Homo sapiens: one gene and its partner. The protein of the gene in region 1 interacts with the protein of each later gene in a biochemical or structural test. Each region holds a gene or a part of one and is shown in the gene's direction. Other genes may lie near its edges.

Region 1 (3,818 bases):
GCTGGGATTACAGGCATGAGCCACTGCACCCAGCCTCTTTTTTGGGTCTTAGAAGCAAGTATTTAGAGGCAGTGTAGATAAAAATCCCAATCAGAACCATATTGATCCTAAATTACCTTTCTGGAACTTCAGTTCTGGCTTGTCCCTTCCATAAAAGGAGCTTAGCTTTTAACTAATTCCCTTCCCAACCTGGTCTAAAACAGCTGCTTAAAAGGGAATTTTTCTAGCATTTGGCTTTATCTGTTCCCTTTTTAGGTTCCATGGTTTTCAGTTTTAGGCTTTCCTAGGGGATCTTGTACAGCGTGATTTTTGAGGAGAGGACCAGATTCGCATCTTTGCTTTTGAAAGCACAAACCACTAGCTTCCTTTTAACTTAGAGACAGTAAAAACTTGTGTAGTGTTTGGCTAATGAGTGACAGTCTATTCAAGGTCTAGGAGGACCTGCTTGATTTCCATGCATCCATTTGTCTCAATCTCTGGCACCTACTCCCAGATCTCCTTAGGGAGGGATTCTGTTTTCAAGTTTTGTTTTGTTCTCCATCATCTACCACTTCAGCTGATACATATCTTGCCATGTGTAGTGATTATGACTCTTAATGGGCTAAGATAAAAAGGACTCAAGTCTTATAAGACATTTAGCTCAAACACCCAAGATTGGCCCAATTTCTATCAAGCTATAGGCTGTTTTTCAAGCCAAATTTATCAGCAACTAGGGAAGACAGGACTTAACGATAGGTGTAAATGCCCTGGAGAGTTGAACATCTTGTTATGGGAACTGATCTTAGCTTTAATACGATCTAGTGAAGTTCAGCCATCCTAGGAAGGATGCTGCTGGGAGGGAGGGACAGGTGTGCTGCCCTACTCCTCCAATCGAATTGCTTTCCTGTTCAGTCACATATGCTCCCCATGCTTAACTTGCCAGGGCTATTTTCTCAGTAGTGGCAAGTGGTCTGTGTCGATTTTTCATATCTAAAAAATAGCATAGTTGAATAATTAGTCATTATACTTTGTCAAATATAGAGATGTGGTTTATTAGAGGGCCTACTCGGGTAGTCCTTGCCACCCATTTATTCTGTGGGTTTGTTTGTTTTGTCCTCTTACCATAGAAACCACCATCATGGGTTCGGGTCCCATAGACCCCAAAGAACTTCTCAAGGGCCTGGACAGCTTCCTTAACCGAGATGGGGAAGTCAAAAGTGTGGATGGGATTTCCAAGATCTTCAGGTGAGTCTTTACCCCTTTTTGTATTCACTGTGAGTAGAGAATATTGTGTGTTAAAACATGGCTGCAGTTGAGGCACACTGGAATGATCCTGGAAAGGAAAGGGAAAGATAGTCAGTGCAATAGGATTAAAATGTAACAATTTTAGGATAAGGGATAGGAAAAGATGATCACTTGTTTCTGACCATAATGGAAACTGGAGATTTGGACGTCCACGGTCCCAAGGGAGTCATGCTTTGGAATGAGAGCAGGGTAGCCTGGTAACAGAATTCTAGATTGTTTTGGTTCGTGTTCCACCTACCCATAATGTTATTTTCCTTCAGGGATTCTCAGGTTTTTCAGGGGAGAGTAAATAACTAAGCCAGTCTTGAACAGACTATTAGGGACAGTTGTTGAGGGATAGCCTTATCACCTGGAGGCAGAATGGAATTCATCCTGTGTGTTACGGAGGCAGCGATGCTCTCCTCCCCAGGTCAGAGACTGCGGTGTCTCTGTTCTCCCATAAGTTTCCATGTCACACTGGATCCATCCCATCTTCCTAGAGGTATATGTGACTCCCCTTCTCTGGAGCAAAGTCCCAAGTCATTAGGAATCTCTAGGCAGTTCACAGAGAGGCGCTTTTGCTAAGAGAAGAGATACTGGCTGCTTCATTTCTAACCCTAACTCATCTTCTGCAGTTTGATGAAGGAAGCACGAAAGATGGTGAGTCGATGCACTTACTTGAACATTCTCCTGCAGACCCGTTCACCAGAAATATTGGTCAAGTAAGTGGGGATCTGGATGGTTGGAATGGGAAGGTGTAGCGAAAAGATGGGGCGGTGAGGCATGGGGTTCCTCGGTCATTGATGGGAGACTGGGATTGTAGGATGTGGTACTGTCAAAACCTAGAAAGGGCATTACTGATAGACTCTCCTGCCTGCCTGCAGATTTATTGACGTTGGCGGCTACAAACTTCTTAACAATTGGCTGACGTATTCAAAGACAACCAACAACATTCCCCTCCTCCAGCAAATTCTACTGACCCTGCAGCATCTACCGCTCACTGTAGACCATCTCAAGCAGGTACCTTTAGTCTTTAAACCCTGATTCTTCCTTTTTTGGTTTAGTCTAATGGATGAAAAACTCAAACTGACTGATGTGGCTGTAATCTTGGGCCTGTGAGGTAGAACAGCAGAAAAAAAATAGGAATTTAGAAGAAGAAGACTTGGTTTGAATTTATCTCCTTTAATAGGTGTGTGGCGGCTGGGCACGGTGGCTCACGCCTGTGATCCCAGCACTTTGAGAGGCTGAGGCGGGCGGATCATGAGGTCAGGAGACTGAGACCATCCTGGCTGACGTGGTGAAACCCCGTCTCCACTAAAAATACAAAAAATTAGCCAGGCATGGTGGCATGCGCCTGTAGTCCCAGCTAATCAGGAGGCTGAGGCTGGAGAATCGCTTGAACCCAGGAGGTGGAGGTTATTGTGAGCCGAGATCGCACCACTGCACTCCAGCCTGGGCGACAGAGTGAGACTTCGTCTCAAAAAAAAAAAAAAAAAAGGAATGTGTCAGCCAGGTGTGGTGGCTCACACCTGTAATCCCAACACTTTGGGATGCTGAGGTGGGTGGATTGCTTGAGCCCAGTAGTTCAAGACCAGCGTGGGCAAAAATGATAAAACTCTGTCTCTACAAAAAATACAAAAAATTTACCCAGATGTGGTGGTGCATGCCTGTAGTCTCAGTTATTTAGGAGGCTCAGGTGGGAGAATCATTTGAGCCTGGGAGGTCGAGGCTGCAGTGAGCCAAGACTGCGCCACTGCACTCTAGCCTGGGCAACAGAGTGAGACTCCGTCTCAAAAAATAAAAAAAAAAAAAAAAGCAGGGAGGACTGTAACTTTTGTCGTTTTTAGCTCTAAGTGGAATTATTTGCCTCCTGGCATTTACCTTTCTGCTGCTCCCATCTCTCATAGAACAACACAGCTAAACTGGTGAAGCAGCTGAGCAAGTCAAGTGAGGATGAAGGTAGGGTGCCACTTCTGCTCTCTCATGGGCTTTTCTCTATTACTTCCACTTAATTACCTTAATATCTTTTCCCATCCTTGGATTGTCCCTTCACTTTTCTCTTTCTACCTCACCTTGCTTTTTTTCCTTCTTTTAAAGAGAAAGTTCCTCTAACCTGTACCCTCTTTCCTGTTCTCAATTCCAAAGTTGTTCATTTCTCTGTTGCTGAATATAAGGTGCCATACTTTAACTGGAAGCTGATTCCTAAAATTGCTTGTTATAAAACACATACACTTAAAATTTGCTGTGGGAAATAGTATCATCCTAGCGTGTCTCATCTGTGAAACTCCTATTACTAAATGATAAATTATGAAATGAGTTTATAAGTGGAAATGTTGGCCAGAAGAGAGGTGCCATAGATCAGAGATGTTATTTGCCAAGTACAAAAGGAAAGAGTTACAAAGTATTTTTTCATATATTTAGAAACAAATTTTATTCTTGTTTTCACATCTATAAAGGAAAATAAAAAGTCTTCAGATTGTTGTAACAATTAGGTGTGTTATACATAAAGCAACTAACGTAGCTTTTTAAAAAAATGTCAGTTTTTGAGGAACTGG
Region 2 (3,818 bases), on another chromosome or scaffold:
TCCCAAAGTGCTGAGATTACAGGCGTGAGCCACCACGCCCAGCCTAAAATTTTTCTAACTTAACCAGTATGTGTTAGAGTTTTTGGTTAAAGGTTCTGTTGAGACCAGTTTTAGCCTTGCTCTTCAAGGTTCTGTAAAGGGAGACATTTAAGGAACTTCAACAAATGGAGATTGATAACCTCTAGCTTGGAAATGTGTGATTTTTTGTCTGTTATTGAGGTGGAGTCTCACTCTGTCGCAGAGGCTGTATTGCAGTGGCACGATCTTGGCTTACTGCAACCTCTGCCTCCTGGGTTCAAGGAATTCTCCTGCCTCAGCCTCTTGAGTAGCTGGAATTACAAGTGTGTGCCACCACACCCGGCTAATTTTTGTATTTTTAGTAGAGACGGGGTTTCACCATGTTGGGCTGCTCTCGAACTTCTGACTACAGGTGATTTGCCTGGCTCGGCCTCCCAAAGTGCTGTGATGACTGATGTGAGCCACCACCTTGTGGCCAGAAATGTGTGATTTTGCTTTAAAGTAAAAGCAAAGGAACTATTTAACTGGTTTTGCTAGAGAAAGTTAGGCTTGCCTTCTAAAAGGCTCAGCAAGCGCTTTTGACCTGTAGGATAGGAAGGATGGATGTCTTCTGCAAGAGCAGGTTACATTAGCAAAGGCAAGCAGTTTTGCATCTGGTTTCAGTTTTGAGGAATCACTGCCGTCTTGAAAAAAAAAAACACAGAGCTTCTTTCTAAATGGATGTCTTGAGAAGAAAAGTTTGGCCTCTTGGGTTTGACATATTCTCATATCCCTCTTTGTTGTAAGTTAAGACTTGTTTTGTGTGCCTTTCTTCCCAAGTAGATGTACAGCCATGCATCACTTAGATGGGGATCATCACGTGAGTTTTTGTTGCAGCAGCATCATAGAGTGTACTTACACAAACCTGACGGTATAATCTGCACACACCTAGGCTGTTTGGTATGGCCCATTGCTCCTAGGCTACAAACCTGTACAGCATTTTACAGTACTGAATACTGTAGGCAATTATAATATAGCGTTAAGTGTTTGTGTATCTAAACATAGAAAAGGTGCCGTAAAACAGTTTAAGGGATTTAAAAAATGAAACATCGGTTGTAGAGGGCAGCTCTATTATAATCTTATGAGACCATTACCCTATGTGCTGTCTGTTGTTGATAAAAATGTCATCACATGGCACATGATTGTATTTTTTCTCAAAGCTTTTGAACATTGTAGTAAAGACTGAATTGAATCCCCAGATTTACTTTTACTTCCCACCTAACCTTGCCACTAGGTGTTCTAAGGTGGAAAGCTTCTTCAGATGGCTGTTGCTTGAGCGTTGTTTTTTCCCTTTTGGAAGAAGTTGTTTCTTTCCAGTGTTAGAACTTACCAAAAATCCTCACCTTTGCCACATCATTCAAGTGCTTCTCTTTATGTGGAGATCCCAGATTTTGATGATGGAGAATGTTCATGATTTTCTGTCTCTATTTTCTTATCAGACCAAAGAGAACCCTGTACAGTAAGAAATATGGTGTGGACCTCATCAGATACACTCATGCAGCAAACACAGTTGTTTACAGCTCTAACAAAATAGACGGTAAGCAAGCCTTTTTAGGAAGTTAAGGTCATGGTTTCCTTTGTTAAATAGTTCATGGAATCTTTGTGACTACTTCTGCTTTGTGACTACTTTAGTTTAAGTATTTTCATATAATGTTAGTAATGTTAATTGCATTGTTTTGACTGAAGGAATGCTGGAAGCAAGCCATTGGCACTTTTGAAGGACTTGGGACTGAGTATGAAAAGTCTTCAATTCAGAGTGGGGAGTGGAAAAAGGAAACAACTAATTGTGTTTATGATTTGTACTTCCTGACACTTAAAAGAACGCTTTTAAAGCCGGGCGTAGGGGCTCGCGCCTATAATCCCAACCTTTGGGAGGCTGAGGTGGGCGGATCACTGAGGTCAGGAGTTCAAGACCAGCCTGGCCGATATGGTGAAACCTTGTCTCTACTAAAAATACAGAAGTTAGCTGGGCACAGTGGTGCACGCCTATAATCCCAGCTACACAGGAGGCTGAGGCAGGAGAATCTCTTGAACCCGGGAGGCAGAGGTTGTGGTGAGCCAAGATCACGCCATTGCACTCCAGCCTGGGCGACAGAGTGAGACTCCATCTCCAAAAAGAACACTTTTAGAACAAATAAAAGGAAAGAACACTTGATACACAGCAAGTGATAAACAACAGGACTTTTTCTTTTAAAATGATAGAGATTTGAGAAAAGTTTCACAAATGCTTGAACTATGATAGTTTAAGGGAAGTTAGAACAGTTTTGGTGTTTTCCCAACCTTAGTCACTTCTGATTCCAGGAACGTTTTTTGATCTAAAGAGTAGAGTTACTTTTAGAAATTGAACTTGTGAGTTTCTTTCTATAATAAACAATCTCTGTTTTTGCCTGCATGTCTCGAGATAAATCCTAAGTTAACAGATTGTCTTGGTAACTGAACTGTAACACTTATTTTCATGTTAGAATTCTTTAATTTTTTAATTTTGTTTATTTTCTTTTGTTTGTCTGTTTTTATTTTTTGAGACAGAGTCTCACTCTGTTGCCTAGGCTGGAGTGCAGTGGCGCGATCTCAGCTCGCTGCAACCTCCGCCTCCCGGGTTCAAGTAATTCTCCTGCCTCAGCCTCCCAGGTAGCTGGGACTACAGGTGCATGCCACCATGCCTGGCTAATTTTTTGTATTTTTAGTAGAGACAGGGTTTCACCATGTTAGCCAGGATGGGTCTTGATCTCCTGACCTTGTAAGCCACCGTGCCCGGCCTATTCTTTATTCTTTTGAGACAGAGTCCTGCTCTTGTTGCCCAGGCTGGAGTGCAATGGTGCAATCTCGGCTCACTGCAATCTCAGCCTCCTGGGTTCAAGCGATGCTCTTGCCTCAGCCTCCCAAGTAGCTGGTATTACAGGTGCCCACCAACACGCCCGGCTAATTTTTGTATTTTTAGTAGAGTTGGGACTTCACCATGTTAGTCAGGCTGGTCTCGAACTCCTGACCTCAAGTGATCTGCCTGCCTCATCCTCCCAAAGTGCTGGGATTACAGGTGTGAACCACCACGCCCGGCCAGGATTCTGTTTTTAAACTTATTTCAGTGGATTATTGATGATCATCTCACATTTTGCAGTAAGGTTTTTTTTAGGCCGGTGGCTACATAGTGGCTCATGCCTGTAATCCCAGCACTTAGGGAGGCCTAGGAGAGTGGATCACTTGAGCACAGAAGTTCGAGATTAGCCTGGGCAACTTGGGAAAACCCCGTCTCTACAAAAAATACAAAAATTAGCCAGGTGTGATGGGACGCGCCTGTAGTCCCAGCCACTTGTAAGGCTGAGGTGGGAGGATTGCTTGAGCCCTGGAGGTCTAGGGTGATCACACCACTGCACTCCAACCTGGGTGACAGAGCGAGGCTCCATCTCAAAAAAACAAAAAAGATTTTTCTAATGTCATTCCACAAGGATAGCTTATACTGCTATTTTGGCTGTGCCTATCTCAGAGCAGAATGGGCGGAAGTCCTTTTTTCCATTTTTTTTTTTTTTTAATGAGACTCTTCTGCCTGTATTGATTTTTAGTTAAGTATGTCATTTCTACTTTTCATGCCTGTATTTCAGAAGTGGTTTTCTAAGGAAGCAGTGTAGTTAATGATTTTGGAAAAGAATGTAAAACCTTAGGATCCTGAGGAAACATGTCTATGTGATCATCCGAATGACTGGTTTATTTCTTCTGTTGGGATGTTTTTCTGAGTGATTAAATGAGGATTCTCCAAATGTGGTGCA

The links.
Region 2: the proteins of PPP1R10 (region 1) and WDR82 form a complex in vitro, tested with the Homo sapiens proteins (one study listed by BioGRID).

What each region holds. Positions count from the first base shown.
Region 1 is NC_000006.12:30,607,244-30,611,061, reverse strand, and holds part of PPP1R10 (serine/threonine-protein phosphatase 1 regulatory subunit 10), read left to right. Parts: intron 1-1,106; 5' UTR 1,107-1,117; coding exon 1,118-1,224; intron 1,225-1,898; coding exon 1,899-1,985; intron 1,986-2,147; coding exon 2,148-2,283; intron 2,284-3,170; coding exon 3,171-3,222; intron 3,223-3,818.
Region 2 is NC_000003.12:52,268,488-52,272,305, reverse strand, and holds part of WDR82 (WD repeat-containing protein 82), read left to right. Parts: intron 1-1,496; coding exon 1,497-1,594; intron 1,595-3,818. UniProt on the Homo sapiens protein: Regulatory component of the SET1/COMPASS complex implicated in the tethering of this complex to transcriptional start sites of active genes.